4 linked regions of the Homo sapiens genome follow. The protein of the gene in region 4 interacts with the protein of the main gene of each other region in a biochemical or structural test. Each region holds a gene or a part of one and is shown on either strand. Other genes may lie near its edges.

Region 1 (3,619 bases), on a different chromosome or scaffold from region 4:
ACAGTCTTACTCTGTCACCCAGGCTGGAGTGCAGTGGCGCGATCTCGGCTCACAGCAACCTCTGCCTTCCAGGTTCAAGGAAATCTCATGCCTCAACATCCCGAGTAGCTGGGATTACAGGTGTGCACCACCATGCCCGGCTAATTTTTGTATTTTTAGTAGAGAGGGGGTTTTACCATGTTGGCCAGGCTTGTTTCAAACTCCTGACCTCTAGTGATCCACCCACCTCAGCCTCCCAAAGTGCTGGGATTACAGGTGTTAGCCACCATGCACAGCCGAGAACTTTCTTTTATTTGGACTCCTGATTTTAGAATACCATGGTTTCTTTTAAAAAAAAAAAAAAGTACGATTATTAACACTGATTAATAACACATGAACCAAACCCACTTAATATCATTATTAAAAACAGGCTGGGCACAGTGGCTTATGCCTGTAATCCCAGCACCTTCGGAGGCTGTGATGGGAGGATTGCTTGGGCCCAGGAGTTTGAGACCAGTCTAGGCAACATAGTGAGAGCTCTGTCTCTACAAAAAATACAAAAATTAGCCAGGTGTGGTGGTGAGCACTTGCAGACCAGCTACTTGGGAGGCTGAAGTGGGAGGACTGCTTGAGCCAAGGAGGTCCAGGCTGTAGTGAGTTGAGATTGTGCCATTGCACTCTAGCCTGGGCTCAAAACAAACCCCAAAAAACAAAACCAAACATCAATAGAACTACATAGGGACAACAGCAAATACAAATCTTTAAACACTTCATGATGTGGCCGGAATGAGTACAAGTATGCAATTCAATGATTCCAACATTTGATGGTGACTGTGAATTATTACATATTTATTACACATAAATGAGTTTAAATTTTATTTCCAAACTGCATGCAGGGACTTTATTATTACTATGAATTTTTTTTTGAGAGTTTCACTCGTTGCCCAGGCTGAAGTGCAATGGCGCAATCTCGGCTCACTGCAACCTCTACCTCCTGGGATCAAGTGATTCTCATCTCAGCCTCCTGAGTAGCTGGGATTACAGGTACCCACCACCACGCCCGGCTAATTTTTGGTATTTTTAGTAGAGACGGGGTTTCACCATGTTGGCCAGGCTGGTCTCAAACTCCTGACCTTGTGATTCGCCCACCTTGGCCTCCCAAAGTGCTGGGATTACAGGCGTGAGCCACCATGCCTGGCCAAAACCTTTGATTTTTAAAAAGGCGTTTCTTGAAGTACCTTATTAAACATTTGATTTGAAGGAAACTGTGCATGTCTAACATACTTGCCTTTTACAGAAAGCTGGCTAGCCAAAAATGTATCATCAACTATCGATTTTATTTTCAGAAGTGGACTGTCTCTTAAATGAGACAGCATAAAGTATGGACTTGTAGAAGCTGAACGAGTAAATCATGAGTGTAACTGATAACATGTAAGTCCATTCTTCGTATAAACTGCTAGAGAGTGTTTCAGACCATCACTGATGTCTGTGATAAAGAGCACCAAAGCATCACAGTCCAACTTTTTTTTTAAGCGCCAAGTTCAAACAAGTGACCAATAATAATGGTTGGTCCTTGAAGGTCTTTTACCAGAGGCCTTTTCTAATCACTTCGTAACACTTCTGAGATGTACATGGCTCCTGAAACTTGAAAACAAAGCCACAAAATGAACATTAACATTTCTTTAGGGGAAAATGCTATCTAATTTTCCCCTCGTTTGAATTAACCAAAAAAAAAAAAAAAGCCTATTTCTTTTACAAATCTTCTGAATAACGGGTTTTAAGAGCAGGCCAGGCGCGGTGGCTCACGCCTGTAATCACAGCACTTTGGGAAGCTGAGGTGGGCGGATCACGAGGTGAGGAGTTCGAGACCAGCCTGCCAGCCTGGCCAACATGATGAAGCCCTGTCTATATTAAAAATACAAAAAAAATCAGCCTGGTATGGTGGTGGTGCCTGTAATCCCAGCTACTCGGGAGGCTGAGGCAGGAGAATCGCTTGAACCCAGGAGGCGGAGGTTGCAGTGAGCCGAAATCACACCACTGCACTCCAGCCTGAGCGACAAGAGCAAGACTCTGTCTTAAGAAAAAAAAGAGCAAAGGACACACCACATCTGCATAAATCCAAGTGTGTTAAGGAACATAATCATGTTGATTGTATCCTGATTCTAGCAGGTGAAGGACTAAGCACTCAACTTGTATTTGGAGGAGAAGCAAGTGTCATGATGGAGCATGTCTTATATGGCAATTCAAAACAGTATGATTCTGATGCGAGTGAGAACTAAATGTTGGACAGGCTTTTTATACAAATCCCACCTGCATGATCCAGAACAATATTCTTACAGATTCAATGCAGACTCCACCAATGGGTTAGCTAGACATCAACAGGCTCACTTTCTTTTTTTCTTTTTTTTTTTTTGAGACAAGAGTTTCACTCTGTCTTGCAGGCTGGAGTGCAATGGTATGATCTCAGCTCACTGCAACCTCTGCCTCCTGGGTTCAAGCAATTCTCCTGCCTCAACCTCCCAAGTAGCTGGGATTGCAGGCGTCCACCCAGCACTCCTGGCTAATTTCTGTATTTTTAGTAGAGATGGAGTTTCACCATGTTGACCAGTCTGGTCTTGAACTCCTGACCTCAGGTAATCCACCCGCCTGGGCCTCCTAAAGTGCTGGGATTACAGGTGTGAGCCACCGCGCCTGGCCCATTTTCTTAATGTAAGTCCACAATATGTCATTAGGGGAGAATGACTTTGGCAAACTCATATGCTTCAAAGGCAGAAAGACATGTACTAAGAAGGCAGTTAGAGCTGGAAAATTCTTGACATAATTACAACTTTAGCAAGAGAATAAAAATAGATTTTAAAAGTGTGTGCATGTGGGGAGGTGACAGAATATCTTTATATGTACTTTAAGAAGCTGACGCGTTATCCAGACACAAAAGATAACATTCTCATCAAAACAGGCCAAGATGAAACACCAGGGGCACTCTTCACAGAAATTAAGTGGATGCTTCTGGCGCCAAATGTCTTTGCCTGGTTCTTCCTGGCATTTCTGCTTGACTCCTTCCCCCTGTATCATTCTCAAATCCCCAGCCTTTCCACTGGGCAAAGCCACTCTCTTCTCCCTCAGGCTCTGAAGAGATAACACAAATGTATGGACACTTTTTGTCCTTCAATTAAAAAACCTGCTGGAAGCTCCAGTGATGTTAAGAATTAACTGGTAGTTCTTTATCTTAGCTAGGCTTATGTATTCCAAATTTTGCCTGTTTTCTTGGAATTATATGAATTTCCTTATTAAACATTTGATTTGAAGGAAACTGTGCATGTCTATTAATTACCCATGAGGTACATGTGTATTTCTGAAATTTCTCCTTCAGTCTCACCTGAGTTTAATTTTTGCCTAAGATGTTTAGAGTTCCTGAGGTGCTTCTCTAGGCTAAAATTTAAAGATTTTTTTTTAAAAAAGCAAATAAAAGTAAATGAATGGCTAAAAGATAAGGTTAAATTTTCTAGGCTGGGCATGGTGGCTCACACCTATAATACTAACACTTTGAGAGGCTGAGGCGGGAGGATCACTTGAACCCAAAAGTTCGAGACCAGCCTGGGTAACATAGTGAGACCTCATCTCTACAAAAAAAATTTTTAAA
Region 2 (4,238 bases), on a different chromosome or scaffold from region 4:
TGATCTTTTTAAGATATAAGTTCAGATCACTCCTCTTTCAAAATTTTAAATTAATATTCTTTCTGTATTTTGTTTGACACATGGTCTCACTTTGTCATCCAGGCTGGAGTGTAGTGACTCAAATATGGCTCATTGTAGCCTCCACCTCCTAGGCTCAAGTGATCCTTCTGCCTCAGCCTCCTGAGTAGCTGGGACCACAGGTGTGCACCATCATACCCAGCAATTTTTTAAATGTTTTGTACAGGTCTCATGTTGCTCAGGCTGGTCTTGAACTCCTGGGTTCAAGCTATATTCCTGCCTCGGCCTCCTAAAATACTGGGATTACAGATATGAACCACCATGTTTGGCATCTCGGCATTAGGAATAAAACCTAACCATGGCCCGTAGAGCTCTCAATCACCCAACACTTGCCTACATCTATGCTCCAGTCACAGTAGCCTTCTTTCCTCTCTTGAAGGGCACCATGCTCTTTCTTGCCTCCTGGCCTTTGAACATGCGATTCCCTGGCCTCTCTAGTTACCTCCTACTGATCCTTCAGCTCTAAGTTTCAAGGTCACCTGCTGAGTCCTCTAACATCTAACCAAAATGCATTTCTCCTCTTAATCTTTCATAACACTTTACTCAACTTGTAAGTATACACCTATACACACACACTTACATGGAGCGAAAGGGAGAAGAGAGAAGATTTGTTTGCTTATTTATTATCTGTCTACCCCAGTAGACAATAAGCTCCATGGGTGCAGGGACATTCTCTGGTTCACTACTCAATCGTGAGGGCCTAGCACAGCACCTGGCAGACTCTGGACACTCAAAAGGTATTTGTTGAATAGAGACAACAGTCTCTTGTGCAATATGCAGTTTGCCTCATTATTCTTAGAATGTTTTCCCCCCTTAAAAAAACAAAAGTTAACCACTTCAATACCAATAAATTAGAGAGCTATTAGGTATACCCCTGCCTTACCAATAAAGCTTCCTCCTACTATTTTACCGGTTTCATTCATTAAGCACTTTCATGCATTCATCACCTGGCATCAGTTACCAAAACCGTGTACCCACTTAAGAAGAAGTATTTAAAGTCATTCAGAGTTCAATGGGCCTTTGGGAATCATCTAATTCTCAGCTGACAGAAGACAGAAAAGTAGGTTAACTGGTCTGCCCCTGTTACAGTTAGCAGCAGAGCTGTCATATGAAACCAAGTTCGATTTTGTTTAGTGCTTTTTCCAAAACCCATTTCTGGCTGGCCGCGGTGGCTCATGCCTGTAATCCTGGCACTTTGGGAGGCCGAGGTGGGAGGCCCACTTGAGGTCAGGGGTTCAAGACCAGCCTAACATGGTGAAGCCCCGTTTCTACTAAAAATACAAAAATTAGCCGGGCATGGTGGGGCATGGGTAATCCCAGCTACTTGGGAGGCTGAGGCAGGAGAATCGATTAAACCTGGGAGACAGAGGTTGCAGTGAGCCGAGACTGAGATCGCGCCATTGCACTCGAGCCTGGGCAACAAGAGCGAAACTCCGTCTCAAAACAAAAAAAGAAAACAAAACCCATTTCTGTCTGGTACTTTTTTTTTGAGACGGAGTTTCGCTCTTTTTGCCCAGGCTGGAGTGCAATGGTGCTATCTCGGCTCACCGCAACCTCCGCCTCCCAGGTTCAAGCGATTCTCCTGCTTCAGCCTCCCAAGTAGCTGGCATTACAGGCATGCGCCACCACCCTGGCTAATTTTGTATTTTTAGTAGACACGGGGTTTCTCCATGTTGGTCAGGCTGGTCTTGAACTCCCGATCTCAGGTGATCCACCCGCCAAGCCTCCCAAAGTGCTGGGATTACAGGCGTGAGCCACCGCGCCCGGCCTCTGTCTGGTACATTTTATCTGAAGCAACAGGAATTGACAGGAAAAATCACTGCTGTCCACAGACCCATACTTGCTCACTTCGGATATGTATTTTTAATGAAGTGCAACAACGTTACCCAGAATCAAAATTAAGCTGTTTCTACGTAAACATTGGGCAGGTAATACAACTGGAAATCAAAAATGTAAGTAGTTCGTTTGTAAGTTAGGGTTCCAGTAGTTAGCAAACTTGCCAAAGTCATCAAAAGTAGTGGTCTTCCTGTTGGGGAACTTTAGCAATAAGTAATTTTATTTTAGTAACAGCAGTAACTACCCCTCCCCCCAAAGAGGAAATTGGAAGACAGCACTGGGTGAAGAAAACAATTTTTTCACGTGTTGCTTTTAGACATAAAACCCTCAACATTTGGAAACTTCAGACTTCCATAATAAGGTTCTAAAGAGATTTCCTTGATCTTGATCCACGGTCCTCAAAGAAACACAAAAAAACTAACCCCCACCTAAGAACTGTTCTTAACCAAACAGGCAGGAACTTCTATGGGCTTTAGCAATCGCTTCTGAACCAGCGCGACAATACTCCTCTGACCTCGCGCAAGAAGGCCACCTTCTCCCTCCCAGAAGAGTCCCGGAGCAGAGCAAGGCACTCAGGGGGCATCTGCGCCGAGGTCGAGGCTCGCTGAAGGCCTTGCTGCCGCCTTGGGGAAAGCCCTCGCAGGCCCACCTGCCCCACCGCCGCCCCTGAGGCCCGGCCTGACTCCCCGCCGGCGCCCCCTCAGCTACCTTTCCGCCGGAAGAAGGACATGGCGGGGCCCGGGTCGGGACGGAGGGTGCGGGGGGACTGGCGCGGGGAGGGCCCGGCTCCCCTCATTCAGCAACCGGCCCGGACTTCCGGGTCCAGAGGGGCCGCTGCACTAGCGCGAAAAGGGACCCTTCTTCCGGGAGTGGGCCCCACCGCCTCCTCGGGATGCCCAGGCAGCTCCAGCCGCCATATTATCAACAAGCCGCCCGCCCGGAGTTCCGGTCCTTCCCCGCGCTAGGCTTCACGGGAGGTCAAGCGCCGGCCCCGCCCCTTTTCCCCATCCCCCTCCCGCGGGTGCAGGGGCGCACGCCCGCATCGCCCACGTGACCCGCGCGTGCTACCCGCGCCTCTTTCCCGGGCCCTGGGTGCCTGGAGCGAGCCACCGTTCCTGCAGCTGTTTTGTGGCGTCTGTCGCCGGCCCCCGGTGGAGCGCTGCAGACCCAGTCTCTGCAAAACTAACTCCCTGGGGCGGGAGCCCTCCCAGCAGCTGGAACGGGGCGGGCCTTAGGTCCCCGGCTTCCGGCCCCTGGGTACCCTTCAAATTGTGCCCTTCTAAAAGGCAGGGTCAACCCTGCCACGCTCCAGCTCGACCCCTCCTGCTCCTCCGTTTGAGTTTTGCTCACAGGCGCTGGCCGGCACGAGCAGCTTCACCCTGCACCCCAGTCCCTGCTTCCTCAGGAGAACCCGCCACGGCCTGCGGGTTCGAGGCGATGCAGAACCCTGATTAGGAAAAGGCACAACCTGCCGCATGCGGAACCAGCAGCTCCCTGGATCATTAGCGAATGAAAAGGGGAAGCGGGCTTATTTCGGAGTGCAGTCCCTGCGAATGCTCAACTTTGTAAGGGACTGCAACATAAAAGCCTCGCCAGTATTTAAAAGCTAGCTCCAGTGAATCATCCTTGCTCAAATGCCATTTTCCTGTGAATCTTCTGACCCTCTACTCCCAAAGCAAAATCAATCAAGCCTCCCTGTCTTTGGTGCTTCTTAACACCCGGCGAGTGCGCTCAGCGGCTGAGGTTGTAACTGCTCCCTGGGGTTGGGGTTGGGGAGGGCAGGAAGGTAATAGTAACTCAATAAATGTTCGCTGGGGTTTTTAAACCAATGAAGTTTATCATGTGACGGATGGGGAAACAGGCCCAGAAGAGACAACTAGCCCAAGATTGTTCAGAATGTTAGAAATACCAAAATTGTTAGAAATAGATAATCGGTGCCACGAAGAAAAGTCAGCACGGAGACAAAAGATCTCCAGCAAGGCAATCTTTACTTTCTGCAGAAAGGGTGCTCAATCGCAGATGGAACGATGTCGAGAGCACACCTGAACAAAGGAAAAGCAAACATATTTATCCCTTACGCATTTGGGTCGTCCTCACTGCTATGTCCTGCATCCATTGGCTGGAGCGGGACCTCACACTCTTAAACTGATAGCCGATTTGCTAATAGCCTAAAACTTTCTAAATAGGTAAGTGCAAGGAAGAACGAAGAAGGAGAGGAAGTTGCTTACCGAAAGGTTTAAGGAAGCAATAACATTTCCAAATAAGGAAGGGGCATAGGCTGTGAACTGGAACGTGCCTGTGAGCATGTCCAACAGTTACATAGG
Region 3 (4,395 bases), on a different chromosome or scaffold from region 4:
CAGGAATCAAATACCAAGGTCCTAGCGATGCGATAGTGTATAGTAGGAGACCCTCTCCTAAAATGCTTGGATGTCAAAGATTTACATGGTTCAATGGAGGATGAACACATTGCCCCCTTATCTTGTCAGTGGACTGCCAAGAAATTTTGTGCCATATGAACTTAAGAGCTGAATAGAAGGGGGTAAAAGAATACCCCTGAGAAATTTAATCATCAGCCAGCCCTTCCTTTGATTTGCTGCCTAAACTCAGTATCATAGGGAAGTGAATGGATCTAGAAAGCTATCAGAAACTTTGTAAACACACCTGCAGGAGTCTCTACATGGTAAAAGGGAAGTCATTGTCACCATGTCAGAGAAGGGCTCATTGTCTTAGTCATTTAGGGGTATGCTTTTGAGTTTTACTCATTTCTCTCCTCCACATTGCTCCAGGAAGTCCATGAATTATGTCTAAACAAGTTTTAAGTTAAAAAGAAGACCACAGGGGGAATTCTAAAGTGTTTGGGATTGAGTAATAAGAATACCGCATATCAAACTCATGGACAGAGTAAAATGTGCATCTGTAAATATATTTATCAAAAAAGAAAGAATTTAAACACTTGGAAACTGAGCAAAGGAACAAACCCAAAAAGTCTAAAAGGAATTAAATGCATAAGGGCAGAAATGAATAATATATAGAAAAAAACATATATATATAAACTTTGAATGCAGATTAAATGGACAACTTAAACAATCAAAATAATTAAGTATCAAAGTTGATACAAGAAGAAATACATAATTTAATATACAGTAACTTTTTCATAAGTTGAAAAAGTATACAATCTATCGCTCATCTCCTTTTCTGGGATTTTGTCCCCTATGACATTGACACAACGCTAAACCAATAGCAGTAATCCTTTATTGTCATTACACTACCCTGCCTAAAATAAACAGCTTCTCTCAAAAAATATTCAGTACACATTCAGCTGTTGATGTCCAAGAATGCAGGGACTCAAGAACATTCATCCTGCCTTACTTCCACTTACAGATCTATCTCTCTTTCTCTTGGAGATGGAACCAAAATAGCCCAGTTTTTTCTGATATTTTCCACTAAATGATAAACTGACAAGTGCGCAAAAATGAAAATAAAGTGTAAGCCACCAGAGTATGTAGAATCTTTTTATTTAGGGCTTTTCTGGTGGAAAACCATAGTAGGACTGGTTTCTTCTACCTTCTTTTCTGAACATTTTTAAGACCCCATATGTATATCACAAAAATATTCTTCCACATGGAATCTGTGATGTAATATTTAAGAAAAAGAACACCTGTTTAATGGAACAGAATAAAGTGCTACCTTTTTTGGGAGGCAACCGGTTATCCATTTGCATACACGGCTGAAGTTGCTTCTCTTCTTGCTGAAGGGTTTTGCCTCCACCCACTGTGAGTGCAAAACACGTTGATGTCAGCATAATGTAGAGAGGCAACTGACCAAACACTACCCAGTACTCCTCTCTGATTTAAAACCGCTTCCAAGGATAACTTGCTCCATCACAGCAGTGCCCATTCACCTCCATTATGTGCTTCCCTTGATATTTATTTTACTTTTGTGATTGTTTTGGTTGATTAAAAATATATGGAAGACCTGAAAACTACAGAGAACAAACAAATAACCCTGCCAATCCAGAATTCTAAATCCGTGATAATATTCCTCCAAAGTGAGAAATGGAAAGAATTCATTGCCAGTAGACCTGCCCTGTAAGGAACACTAAAAGAAGCCTTTCAGGCAGAAGGAGATTGCTATAGGTCAGAAACTCGGCAGTATGAAAAGAAAGGAAGAATGTCAGAAAAGGAGTAAGCAAAGGTAAAACAAATTCCTTTTTTCCCCCTGTATCTTAATAGAGCTGGAAGATACTATCTGCTTATTGATAAGATCAACTCAAGCAGAGGCTAATCATTCGTTACACGTCCACATGCCCCTGTCCGTATCTTCAGTTTCCGTGGATAGAGCAGCCACTGATGCAAAGCTTTATGGCAGGAAGCTCAGTGGAGAATCAGAATGGAGCAGTCTCCTATCAGGCAACCCCTTACCATCAGAATTCAGCACCAATATGTGCTGGTCAGGTTAGACCTCAGGATTTTACCATATCAGATTATATGATACCTAGTGCCCCAAAGATACCAAAGTCCTGAGATTGGATTTGCAAAATATTTTTGAATAAGCAATTTGTCAACCATCATTATCACACATTGGAACCTCTTCTGGGGCTGCTGTTTATTTCAATACATATATACATACACACCAAATGCACACACAAACCACCCATACGTATGCACCACATACATACATACAACATAAACACATGGTACAAACTCCCCTTATGTTCTCCACACATACACTCCAGACACATAGCAAACCAAACATATAAATACGTTACAATACTGCATCCTCAAAACGGAAGTACAAACTACAAACACCACACACATAACCACACACACACATAAATGATGGGCACAGATGCACCAGGCGTACACAGTGTGCCACACACATTACAGACACAGCACACCACAGCTATACAAGCATCACACACTGTACAACACATACTTCTCTTTCCTTGTGTCCCTGTGAACCTCACACTGATTGCTAAAAATATGTTCTTTTTTCTCTTGTGAAAAGCCTCAGAAGATAGGGCATATTCCACCCCTCCCCACATTTTCCCCTATTGCTAAGTACTTTCAATAATATCTTTGCCAGGGAATGCCCCCTTACGGCCCTCTGGGGAATCAACTGATTGCTCATTTCATTTAATGAGCCCCGTAGACTAACCTGATTCGGGACAAAAAAGTGATTTCTTCTTCCGCTGTGAAGACTTTTCTCTCAACTTTACACAATATTGACTTTCTAGGATTACCAAGTTTAGCCCCATAAATCATTCACCAAATCTTTTGACATCACTGTGTCGAAGTTAAAAGCTTAATTTTTAACTTTACTGTTACCTTTTCCTTAAAGCTTCAGGGAAGGTGTGTGGGTCAAAATCATCCAGTGGACCAGAAACTGGGAATCTGCCAGTAATTTCATGGCATAATAAGCAGACACCCTTAGTCTCTCTCCCTGCCCAGGAGGTAGAGCTTGCCTGCCATAAGTGCTCTCAAGATTTCTCTATTAAGGATGGCTCTGAGTATACAATGCTGTTCTCACAGGAATGTTGTGGCTTTCTAAATGCCCCATAAATGCCATATTAAATTTTTACTCTTAATTCCCTTCCTTCCTTTCTTCCTCCTTTTCTTCCTTTTTTCTTTCTTTCTTCCTTCTCTTTCCCTTCTTCCTTCTCCCTCCTTCCTTGCTTTCCCTCCTTCCCTCACCCTGTCTCCTCCACACTCCTCTCTAAACAGTACATCTGTTTGACATTCAGCATACTCAGAAAGAGGTACATTTTATTGAGGCATGTCCTCTGGAAGGTGTGGCTTCTCTCATGGCTCTTCCTGCAATTACTGTAGGTTCTGGTTCATCCACTTGGTTATAGCAATATCCAGAAACATTAAAAAAAAAACATAGAGAGACAGGATCTCACACTGTCACCCAGGCTGGAGTGCTATGGTGCAATTATAGCTCAGTGCAGACTTGAACTCCTGAGCTCAAGGGATCCTTCCACTTCAGCCCCAAGTAGCTGGGATTACAGGTATGCAACACTGTACCCAGCTAATTGGTAGAGACAGGGTCTTGCTGTGTTGCCCAGGTTGATATCAAACTTCCTGCCACAAGCAATCCTTGTGCCTTGGCCTCCCAAGTGTTGGAATGACAGGCGTGAGCCGTCGTGCCTGGCCCCTAATACTTTTAACTTAGAACTCTTTGAAGGTAATCTACTAATTACTTAAAAATATCCAAGCACTAAAATCAGTGATTTTGCATTATAGGTAATTTATTTCATGCTTAACAAGTTTTTTTTTAATTTTTATCATGCTTTTAAAGTGCTCATTAAATGTTTGGCACATAGCAGATGCTCTGTAAATTCAACCAGTTATTTTTTTCCTCTAAAGAAATGTTGTAAATCTTTAACCCCTTTGCCCAGGAGACTTTGATGTTGTTATTCAGTTAGATTTTTTCTTTTTCAAAAGTCCAGATTCTGCTGGTCCTCTTCTGTGTGTTGCAGAATGTTTGTACTGTCCTGTTTCATGCTGGGCAATTTCTGGCATTTTCTGAAAGAGGAGCCCTTTTAGTGATTGAAACCCCTAGGTCAGCAGTTGTTCAAAGTCCATGTGTTAAATAATAACACTCCCATCTGCCATCAGTATCCCAGTTCTGGATACTGATTACCTGAAGGAGAACCATCTTTCTGTTTGCTGGCCCCAAAGCTTTCTGCTGCTCTGTGAGATTCTTTGAAATTGTTTCTTTTGGATTCTGTGTTTTATGTATTAAATTTT
Region 4 (3,619 bases):
AATAGCAGAGTAGTTGTGACAGAGGCCTTATGGCCTGTGAAGTCTAAAATGTTTACTATGTAACTTTTATAGAAAACATTTGCTGACCTCTGGTGTAGAGATCCTAGTTTAGAAATCTTTATAAATGTGGTAATAATTTATCTTAAATTTTTCATATTAAAGTAGACCAGATTTCACAATATTTATCAGTTAGAATAAACTTTCTCAAAGATTTCCACGTTGCTTGATTCTAAATAGAAATTTAGAGTTGATTTTTTTTTTTAATTAACCTTTGCTAGGTGATTATTCTTACTCCCCAAATTACACTTTCAGAGGACAGAGATCAAGGGCTAGTCCTACTCTCCCAACCTGTCTACAATGTGCACAGCACTCGAGGCACTTTCCAAAACACAACCTTTTTGATTAACCTATAGCCAGAATTTCAAAAATTATCTCCCCTATATAAGTAGCAGATGCACTTTGAGTTCTGACTGGAAAGATACATAATGATAAAAAGTTACTTGAATTTAGTAACACTTTAAAAATGAACACCCATACATCTTTCAACATAGTGCTTATTTACATATTCAGAATAGAGAATATGTGCTTGGCCCACATATTCTTTTATGGATAACTCTGCAATTACCCCATGGGAGGTCCAAGGTCAAGGTGGGGAGCACTCCTTGCAGTGGCCACTTGGCTTGGGTTTTGTGTTATGAACACAGACAATGATGCTTACCCAGGGCCATGTTGACTATGATCTCCTATCCCTGAAGCGTGCTCTGTCTTTTCCAATGCCCCAGTGGATTCAGGGACTGCCAGGGCCTGAGAGGAACACCGTTCATCCTGTAGAGCTGCAGACATGGAGTCAACAGAACAATTGCTCACGATGCTGGACCGTGAAGAAATCTCACTATGGCTGGAGTCAGACAAGTTGTCAGATTTAGCTGATGGAATAAGTGTGTAACCTGAACAAGAAAAGAGCACTGATCAAACTACAAAAAAAGGGAACATATGGTGGGGGTAGTAGGGGAAAGGATGAAAAAAAAAAACCCCACAAAAATAACAGAAGACAAAGTAGAAGCAATTTTAGTTTCCATCTATGTAGATATAATGGTGCCAATTTTCTCCACACATTCCCCTACATAACCATTTGCCTACTATCCACACCACACCAATACAACTACACATTCAAGAAAAAGACAGTCAAAGTCCAGTGTTACTCAGAAAACTAGTTTAAAGGTATATCTTTCTCAGGCTCTCCCACAGCTATAATCATTTAATAAAATAAGAAGATTACAAATATTAATAAGTACATGTCTTTAGGGTTTCTCAACTTCTTTTTAACCCAACGCTCCTTCCTTTGATTAATATGAATATTTCTTGACCTGATCTGAATCCCAAATACCATCTTGAAGTAAGGGTAGGGGTGGGAGTCCAGGACTCAAGGGAAAGAACTACATTTTTGCTTTATCAAACTATATATACTTACCCCATATATTCTGCATATCCCACCTAAGAAGTCTTGTCTTGAGTTGAGAGTCACTGTTTTAGATTATTTTTATTTTTTAGACACAGGGTCCTGCTCTGTTGCCAGGCTATAGTGCAATGGCACGATCATAGCTCACTGCAGCTTCGAACTCCTGGGCTCAAGTGGTCCTCTTGCCTCAGCCCCAAGTAGCTGGGACTACGGTCTGCACCACCACACCCAGTTATTTTTAAACTTTTTGCAGAAATGAGGTCTCATTATGTTGCCGAGGCTGGTCTTCAACTCCTGGCCTCAAGCGATCCTCCCGCCTCAGCCTACCAAATTGCTGGGATTACAGGTATGAGCCACCATGCCCAGCCTGTTTCAGTTTTTTAAATTGTTTTAGGTTTAAACTTAGTGTCATACTTAGTTTCCTTTTTCTTCACCAACCTTGCAGAATATTAAACAGCTGAGTGGATACATGTTTAATAATGTGTTATAGAAAAAAACAGCATCTACATGTTCTATGTTGTTCTGTGACTTACTGCACAGCAGACAACTAGAGAGATGTTCTTCTGTATTCTAGGGACGCACTGAGGTGAAGGACCCAAAAACAAATCTGCAACAGAATGGCTAATGTACATAATAATCTATTTTGATAACTGGAAGAAACCAAATTTTTGTTTAGAAATAAAAGAAAAAGAAAATGCCCTAGTAATCCCAACAAGGGACGGGTCTCAAAGAAGTAAAAAATATCTTCTTGCTCACAGAGGAAAGTAGGGTTTAGTAGATATGTGACCTTTGGACCAATACCTAGAAATGTCATTAGGAAGAATTACAGGCTTTGGGTATGTTACTGGAATTCTCAGGGCCTCATCTTCATGCAGAAAGAGGATGACAACATCCTTAGTTCCAAGTCTTTCTCTGTTTATGGATCTTGGAGTTATTCACATATAACTCAAGTCATTTAAGGAATAATTTGTTGCACAGTAATCTTATTAAGTCGTTTCGTTAACTATTTCAAAGAGAAAAAGGCCTAGAAAATGTGTGATTTATATTTGGCCTACGTGGACAGGAACAGGGTAAGCCAAGACAAGCCAGTCTTCTGACGTCTATCATACATCTCTGAACTTGGGATCACTGCTATTTGTCAATGTCCATGAGCTGATTAGTCAATTTTTAAGAGGACCAAGAAAGTGGATGTAATAAGTAAATTAAAAATAAATAAAAACCTTCTTCTTGAAAAGAAAAAGTCATTGCTCTACACAATAATCTTGCTTCATTGTTTAAAAAATAATTTCATTCTTATGTCTATTTGATCAGTATTTCTCAAATATAATAATACTAAGAACCACCTGGCAAGCCAATTAAAATAAACATTCCAGATCCCATTTCTGGCAATTCAAGTTTATGAAGTCTGGGGTGGGACACAGTAATTGCATTTTTTAACAAGTTTCCCAGATGATTCTGATATTGCTATGTTAGACTAGTCCCTTCTCCCCCAATCAAAGATACGTAAAAAGTAGAAGATAAAAAAGCCTCCTCTACATATTTCACTCACAGATCCAGCTAACAGTAGGAAATAAAGTCAACTACAGAAAACAAGAGTATAAAATTTACTAACTCAATACATCAGTAAAATAACTTATGTACAAATGAGGCATTTTCAAGTGTTTATAAATAGTATTTTACTAAGTTGTCTGCCTAAGCTTTGACAAATGGTTTAATTTAAGCCATGTATACATTAATAACTGAAAACAAACTTAACACTAAAATTAAATAAGGAACTTCATCAGAGTGTCTTCCTCCTTTTAGACTTGAATCGCGTATAGAAGCAGTTTAAAGTGTTACTGTTGCCTTGGCTATTTGAATTGAAGATGGCACTCCCTTTCTCATCTTTGATGTTGCTTCCAACATCCTTCACTTTCTCACAGCTTTCTGTAGCTTGATTGTGATCTGTGTCCTCTTTTTGGCTGTTGACTAGTCTCTCCCTTGAAAGCATTCTTTCCCTAAGTCTTCTAAACGGGGATGTCATTCTTTTTCTGGTTGTGTTCTCACAACTTGTCCTGTCTCTATTCTCCTCAGTGGCCTTCTCAGTACTGTCTGTTCTTTTGGCTGTGCTCCTGGTAATCTGAAGGATTTTCTTTTGCAAGTAAGCCCCACCTATTCCGG

What was found. The genes of interacting proteins can lie anywhere in the genome.
Region 1: the proteins of RAPGEF6 (region 4) and GJC1 interact in a test that uses a peptide from one of them, tested with the Homo sapiens proteins (one large-scale study listed by IntAct).
Region 2: the proteins of RAPGEF6 (region 4) and AKAP10 interact in a test that uses a peptide from one of them, tested with the Homo sapiens proteins (one large-scale study listed by IntAct).
Region 3: the proteins of RAPGEF6 (region 4) and SLC17A1 interact in a test that uses a peptide from one of them, tested with the Homo sapiens proteins (one large-scale study listed by IntAct).

The regions. Positions count from the first base shown.
Region 1 is NC_000017.11:44,799,229-44,802,847, forward strand, and holds part of GJC1 (gap junction gamma-1 protein), read right to left. Parts: 3' UTR 1-3,619. UniProt on the Homo sapiens protein: One gap junction consists of a cluster of closely packed pairs of transmembrane channels, the connexons, through which materials of low MW diffuse from one cell to a neighboring cell.
Region 2 is NC_000017.11:19,974,970-19,979,207, forward strand, and holds the start of AKAP10 (A-kinase anchor protein 10, mitochondrial isoform 1 precursor), read right to left. Parts: upstream 2,860-4,238; 5' UTR 2,711-2,859; coding exon 2,623-2,710; intron 1-2,622. UniProt on the Homo sapiens protein: Differentially targeted protein that binds to type I and II regulatory subunits of protein kinase A and anchors them to the mitochondria or the plasma membrane.
Region 3 is NC_000006.12:25,829,194-25,833,588, forward strand, and holds the start of SLC17A1 (sodium-dependent phosphate transport protein 1), read right to left. Parts: upstream 2,860-4,395; 5' UTR 2,801-2,859; intron 1,415-2,800; 5' UTR 1,365-1,414; coding exon 1,331-1,364; intron 1-1,330. UniProt on the Homo sapiens protein: Important for the resorption of phosphate by the kidney. May be involved in actively transporting phosphate into cells via Na(+) cotransport in the renal brush border membrane. Plays a role in urate transport in the kidney.
Region 4 is NC_000005.10:131,432,712-131,436,330, forward strand, and holds part of RAPGEF6 (rap guanine nucleotide exchange factor 6), read right to left. Parts: coding exon of another isoform or gene 3,240-3,619; exon of another isoform or gene 3,050-3,239; intron 948-3,049; coding exon 719-947; intron 1-718. UniProt on the Homo sapiens protein: Guanine nucleotide exchange factor (GEF) for Rap1A, Rap2A and M-Ras GTPases. Does not interact with cAMP.